Homo sapiens: one gene and its partner. Changing the gene in region 2 together with the main gene of any one other region gives a genetic interaction. Each region holds a gene or a part of one and is shown on either strand. Other genes may lie near its edges. The genes, in order: FLT3 and SPANXC.

The links.
Region 1: changes in SPANXC (region 2) and FLT3 together harm fitness less than expected from each alone (positive genetic interaction), as found in Homo sapiens cells (one study listed by BioGRID).

The regions. Positions count from the first base shown.
Region 1 is NC_000013.11:28,002,594-28,006,722, reverse strand, and holds the end of FLT3 (receptor-type tyrosine-protein kinase FLT3 precursor), read left to right. Parts: intron 1-2,548; coding exon 2,549-2,671; 3' UTR 2,672-3,449; downstream 3,450-4,129. UniProt on the Homo sapiens protein: Tyrosine-protein kinase that acts as a cell-surface receptor for the cytokine FLT3LG and regulates differentiation, proliferation and survival of hematopoietic progenitor cells and of dendritic cells.
Region 2 is NC_000023.11:141,240,835-141,243,997, forward strand, and holds SPANXC (sperm protein associated with the nucleus on the X chromosome C), read right to left. Parts: upstream 1,684-3,163; 5' UTR 1,624-1,683; coding exon 1,552-1,623; intron 905-1,551; coding exon 683-904; 3' UTR 629-682; downstream 1-628.

The DNA of each region.
Region 1 (4,129 bases), on a different chromosome or scaffold from region 2:
AAAGGTCACTTAAAGAAATGGAAAAGAGTGATGTATTACAACTATACCCAGTAACTAGCTATGGGAGTGGAGAGAGATTGTCAGAGATGGTTCTAGAAACTTCTAGACAGTGAGACTGGATGAAGAGCACATGTTAGTTAATTCAGGTGGAAGATTGGAAGTGTTATTGGTATTTGTGCTACACAAACTTCATGAGGTGGTTAGAAATTCAGTGGTAGAGATGTACATTTGGATTCAACAGGTTCAACAAATGCTAACTAACTGCTATGTCTACTTCACAAAAGGCACGCATGAGTAGTTACTGTTCATCCTTCAGGGTACAAGCAAAGCTGTCATTGTGCAACACCTGGTTCACAATGGATATATTTTGGGTCAAAGGATACACACACACACACACACACACACACACACACACAATTTTCTAGAAAGAAAAGTGAAGTGTAGGAGGCAGTCTGGACAGTTCACATTAAAACTGTCAAAAACAAAGAAAAAGAAGTAGACAGTAACAAGGGCTGTGGGAACGGAACAAATCTATAAAATTTAAATAGAATGCATGATTCCTAAATCATAAAGTTCTTATAAACAAATAATAATAAAAATGTATCACCTTTTAAAAACTTATTTCTTTTAGAGACAGGATCTTGCTATGTTGGTTAGTTTGGTCTTGAACTCTTGGCCTCAAGCAATCCTCCCGCCCCGGCCTCCCAAAGTGCTAGGATTACAGAGTTGAGCCAGTACACCCAGCCTGTATAGCCTTTTATATACATAAAAGGCAAAGGAAATAGGCAGGCTATTCAAAATGAAAACAAATGGACATAAAGTATAGGAAAAAGGCCCAACTTTGCAGATAGTGAAACATATATAGTTAAGGAGATAGAACTTCTTGCTCAGCAAAAGAGAAGAGATGTGGGAGGCTGACATACCCATTGTTCAGAAGGCTCTGGAAAATATAGTTTCCAGGCACCGTTGATAGGAGTAGAAATAAATACAACCTTTCTGCAGGGCAGCCTGGCCTTGTGTATCACAGTTCAAGTGTGCATCCTTTTTGATCCAGCAATTCCACTTCTGCTTATCCCAACGTCAGACTAGATTGAGTGTGCACTTTTCAGTTTGTTTCGTATAACCAGTTGGTCAAAAGGTTAATTATGATGCATCAGTACTATGGAACTCTAGGCTGCCGTGAAAAAAAAATATGTGGCCATCCTTAGTGAATAATGTAAATATGTGACACAGGCAACATATGAGCAGTATAATAACAATATATTGATAATTCAAAATAAGGTTCCAAAATAGAATATATAGCCTGAGCCCACAGACACAAAATTGTGTGTGCATAGCAAGCTGTCTATAATGGCGGGTACTTGTCATGACTTGTAGCCTTTTTTCTTTTTTTTGAGATGGAGTCTTGCTCTGTCACCCAGGCTGGAGTGCAGTGGCACAATCTAGGCTCACTGCAGCCTCCACCTCCCAGGTTCAAGCAATTCTCCTGCCTTAGCCTCCCAAGTAGCTGGGACTGCAGGCGCGCGCCGCCATGCCCGGCTAGTTTTGTATTTTTAGTAGAGACAGGGTTTCTCCACGTTGGCTAGGCTGGTCCTGAACTCCCAACCCCAGGTGATCCGCCCGCCTCGGCATCCCAAAGTGCTGGGATTACAGGCATGAGCCACTGCGCCCGGCCTTCTACGTCTCTTTCTGTATTTCTCAAATTATCTATATGAATGCATGTTAACTTCATATTTGGGAAAGGAAAGTAAATCTCTTCATTTCAGAAAAAAATATTTAAAAGTCGTGAAACTCCAAGGGAAAACTCAAGAATCAGTCCCTTGTATTAACTCCATAATGAACAGATTTCCTTTTGTGGCCTTTCTCTTTTATGATTTTTCTGCATGGTTTTAGGATTTCTAGGGTGACATTTTATATCTGAGAGTAGACTCAATAATGAAATAAAATATTTGACTATGATTTGATTTCTCCATTAATAAAAGGACCAAAATTGCTTTTTTAGTTATATAGAATATCCTCTGAGACCTATGCATAATAAAAGTACTTGTCTACACGTTTCCTGAAAATATGTACATCTATTATATATCAGTTTAAACATTTTAAAAGTGATGTCTAGGCCGGGCGTAGTGGCTCACACCTGTAATCGCAGCACTTTGGGAGGCCGGGGTGGTGTGGGATCACTTGAGCCCAGGAGTTTGAGACCACCCTGGACAACATAGTGAGACTTTGTCTTTACAAAAAATAAAAAAATTAGCAGGGTGTGGTGGAGCCTGCTTGTGGTCCCAGCTACTCAGGAGGTTAAGGTGGGAGGATTGCTCAAACCCAGAACATCAAGGCCACGGTGAACTATGGTTGTACCACTGCACTCCAGTCTGGGCAACAGAGCGAGACTCTGTCTCAAAAAATAAACAAACAAACAACAAACAAACAAAAAAGTAATTGTCTATATAGAACAACTGTTTTTATTTAAATAATTTGTAATATGGGCGCATAACATGTGCATCTACATCAGATGGTAATCAGTGTTCTGTCTCTTTCCCACATTCAGATGTATCAGAATGTGGATGGCCGTGTTTCGGAATGTCCTCACACCTACCAAAACAGGCGACCTTTCAGCAGAGAGATGGATTTGGGGCTACTCTCTCCGCAGGCTCAGGTCGAAGATTCGTAGAGGAACAATTTAGTTTTAAGGACTTCATCCCTCCACCTATCCCTAACAGGCTGTAGATTACCAAAACAAGATTAATTTCATCACTAAAAGAAAATCTATTATCAACTGCTGCTTCACCAGACTTTTCTCTAGAAGCTGTCTGCGTTTACTCTTGTTTTCAAAGGGACTTTTGTAAAATCAAATCATCCTGTCACAAGGCAGGAGGAGCTGATAATGAACTTTATTGGAGCATTGATCTGCATCCAAGGCCTTCTCAGGCTGGCTTGAGTGAATTGTGTACCTGAAGTACAGTATATTCTTGTAAATACATAAAACAAAAGCATTTTGCTAAGGAGAAGCTAATATGATTTTTTAAGTCTATGTTTTAAAATAATATGTAAATTTTTCAGCTATTTAGTGATATATTTTATGGGTGGGAATAAAATTTCTACTACAGAATTGCCCATTATTGAATTATTTACATGGTATAATTAGGGCAAGTCTTAACTGGAGTTCACGAACCCCCTGAAATTGTGCACCCATAGCCACCTACACATTCCTTCCAGAGCACGTGTGCTTTTACCCCAAGATACAAGGAATGTGTAGGCAGCTATGGTTGTCACAGCCTAAGATTTCTGCAACAACAGGGGTTGTATTGGGGGAAGTTTATAATGAATAGGTGTTCTACCATAAAGAGTAATACATCACCTAGACACTTTGGCGGCCTTCCCAGACTCAGGGCCAGTCAGAAGTAACATGGAGGATTAGTATTTTCAATAAAGTTACTCTTGTCCCCACAGTCCCCTTCATTTTATTTTTATTTATTTGTTTGTTTATTTAATGTTTTAGTGACAGGGTCTCACCCTGTCTCCCAGGCTGGAGTGGAGTGGTGAGATCACAGCTCACTGCAGCCTGAAACTCCTGGCCTCAAGCGATCCTCCCACCTCAGCCTCCTGAGTGGCTGGGACTACAAGCACAGGCCACCACGCCCAGCTAATTTTTAAAATTTTTTGTAGAGATAGTGTCTTGCTATGCTGTGCAGGCTGGTCACAAATTCTTGGCCTCAAACAGTCCTCTTGCCTCAGCCTCCTAAAGTGCTGGGATTACAGGTGTGAGCCATGGCGACCAGCCCTCTTTGTCCTTTGAAGCTTAGCACCCTCCATCCTGTAGGCTTATGAACTTGGTTTGTGCCCCCGCCCCGCCCACCTCCGCTTACACGACAGGTGCCACCAAATTCTGCCTCTTCTTTCTCCTCCACCTCCTGTTGCATGTAGTGGTGAGGGACAAGGGATCTGGAACCGGTCAGCCCAGGTTGGAATTCTCTTTTCACCTGGCCTTAGCTGTGTCATTGGGGCAAGTAACTCAACTTCTCTAGCCTCAGTTTCCTTTTCTGAAAAATGGGACACTAATGGCATCTCTTTTATAGAGTTGCTGGAATAATTAGATGAATTAAATATATACGTAGCTTAGAAATATAGA
Region 2 (3,163 bases):
AAAAGCTCCTCATACTTAAGAGTGTTTTACTTTCCTTTTCCCAAGTCATGGCGATTTTGAATATTCACACTTTGCGGATATCAACACATTTCTAAAGCATACTTATCTTGATTAAAGACTGCTGAGGTCATTAAAACACTAACAAATATTTAAGATGCATTGAACATTTTGTTTTAGAATTGGCTTTTCAATCATTTCATCACAAGCAATGCTTTCCTGCCGTTTACTTACTCCTACATCTACTATCTTCTTTTGTATTGTGCTTTGTGTTTTACAGAACATTTACGCTTTATAAAGCATCTATTTCTAGCCTAGGAAAATATCAAATGGAAAGGGGATGGGAATACCTTTGATATGTACATTCAGCAGAACTATGTGCTGCCGGGTACAGTTGCGTGAACATATACACATCTCCACTTCCTGTGAGATAAAATTTTAAGAAGAAAATTTTCTTTAGGAATCAGTCCTCCCCCAGGCCTTATTTACAATGTCTGGCTTACTGTCAACCTGTGGGTCTGTCCACCAACCCTACAGGACCTCATATCCCTCCCTTCTCAAATGCCTACCTCTTCCCTTCCCTTCCCTTCCCCCGCCACCATCAGAAAACAGGCAGAGATATACACAGCCATCAGCTTCTCAAACTTTATTTTCATTGCCCAAGGTTGAGAGATGTAGCTTCTTGCTACTTTGCAGGTATTTCAACCATTATTTCCATGAATTCCTCCTCCTCCATTTGGAGGGGGTTGATTCTGTTCTCTCGGGCGTGGTCATTCACCAGTTCCTCTGGAGATGTTCTTTTCACGTTCCTCCTGTAGCGAACCACTAGTATGGTCGAGGACTCAGATGTTTTTAGTTTTTTCGGAGCAGGTTGCGGGTCTGAGTACCCACTCGAGGTCTCCGGCATCTGTTAAGAAAGCAGGGAGAGGCCAGGAGGACATTATTTTGGGTGAACAGGATAGAGACTGGATAGCAAGGGGGCTTCATGAGAAGAAGGAATGCGGGTTGAGGAAGGGGTTTGATCCAGAGAAGAAGAAGGTTGAAGCACAGAGTAGGGATCTATGGGGAAGAAGAAGAGGAGCGTGGGTAGGGTCACCTGTGAGTCCAAACTGCACCATTTTGTCAGTTCTTTGCTATTTTGCAGACCTTGGTCAAAGTGAAACATCCCATGGGGGTTCAGGCCGTGAGAAACATCCTGCCTAACCACCTGTCCGCAAGGCGGACAAAGGCCCAACTGAAGAAACATCCCTATCATATCTTGCTTGGCAGCGTTCTAAGGAACACCACAATGATATTCCACCAGAAAAAGGGCCAAACCACCTGATCATAAGAACATCTTATCAATATCCTGCCGGGCAGCAAGCCATACTGCCCAGGCCCCTCCCACCCCTACCTACAAGCACCCCAGCCTGTAAGCGGCGGTGGGCTCTGGCATTAAGCGGGCCCCCCACTTCCACAATGGTCTGCAATATTCCTGTGTTGTTGTTTGAGCCGCCCCCGCTCTGTGTGTCTTTCTTTCACCCTCGCCTTCAATTCAAAACCTAACAGTCTTACCATCTCGTTGGCCTCGTTGGAATCACAGGGGACGCTCCTCTTCACCCCGCCGGCACTGGATTGTTTGTCCATTGTATATATTGGTTCTTCAATGTCAGCGGCAGGCTTTTGTAGGTTTTGAATCTTCGCAGTGGCCCGGAGCTCTTGCCCTCCCTGTATATACCCTCCTGGTGACAAGGCAAAGCCACACCCTTGAGCTTTGTTTGATCATACAGGCAGTGTCCCAGCCAATGGCAGCCCTAGGGTGGCTTCACATCACAAAGCCCCACTGCTGACCACTCCCTGGGCTTGCGGGCGAGGGGTGACAGGGGTGTAGAGCAAACCAAATGCTGTTGTTGTTTCAGCATCCCCTGAAGATGCATCCCAAACCGATCTGCCGCCGCTCCTCATTTCTCCATGTTTAATGTTCACGGTTCACATGGAAGTCAGAGGATGATTCCTTCAAGCCCTTCCCCACAGCCATTCCTATTAAGTGATTCATTCTTTTGTCTTCCAGCCCTCACCATGACTTAGTATTTTCGATGTCTCACCTCAAATCCCCCAAGCTAGTGTGGCTACATTTATTTATTGGCAGAGATGTGAATTATCCCATTTCCCTCCTACAGTTCCTTCACATGCACCTCGAAGACCATTTACTTTTGGGCTACTGCCAGGCAAATTTCAACCCATGTTCTTTTACCCAATGTCCATGTAGTTCTTTTAAGTTTCCTATCTCCAATCTGAAATAATGGCCTTCAGTCTGTCAAAACTTTAGTGAATAAACATTCTTTACCGTGTATCCTAGTCTTGTTTCAAATCAGGGGTGTATATTTTTTTCTCTTTTTGAAATGGAGTTTCACTGTTGTTGCCCAGGCTGGAGTGCAATGGCATGATCTCAGCTCACTGCAACCTCTGCCTCCTGGGTTTAAGTGATTCTCTGGCTCAGCTTCCTGAGTAGCTGGGATTACAGGCCTGTGCCACCACGCCCGGCTAATTTTTGTATTTTTAGGAGAGACGGGGGTCTCACCATCTTGGCCAAGCTGGTCTTGAACTCCTGACCTCGTGATCCACCCGCCTTGGCCTCCAAAGTGCTGGGATTACAGGCGTGAGCCACCACACCCAGCCAGGACAGCCATTATTAAAACCACCATTGACAAGTAAATTTTGGTTACTTCTGTAGCATACAAGAATTTAACATAAAAGTTATAATTAATAACATACACAAGTTATTTCAGAAGTATAAGAGTTTCCCATAATTTTGGAGCACATATCAATGACATTTCTATAAATACAGCCCAAAGAAAGTCAAACAGCATTTTATATTTGACGATGCTTCTTGTATGATTTTTATACCAAATAAGACCAATATGTCTCTTTTGGACTTCAGAGGACTCATATCAAAAAATTAATGAGGAATCAAGTTAGAATTTGACTTTGGAAAGTTCGTCAAAGATAAAAAGTTTAAAATGCTTGATATCACGAAATAGGGTCATGGGTCATTGTAAAATAAGTCATTCATTTAACCAAAGCAGTAACTCAAAGATTTCAAAAAAGAAAAAAAAAAGGTGAAAATCTTTATTCTTTGAGAGAGGAGGCTTAATATCCCAAACAATAAGCCCTAATTAAAAACAGG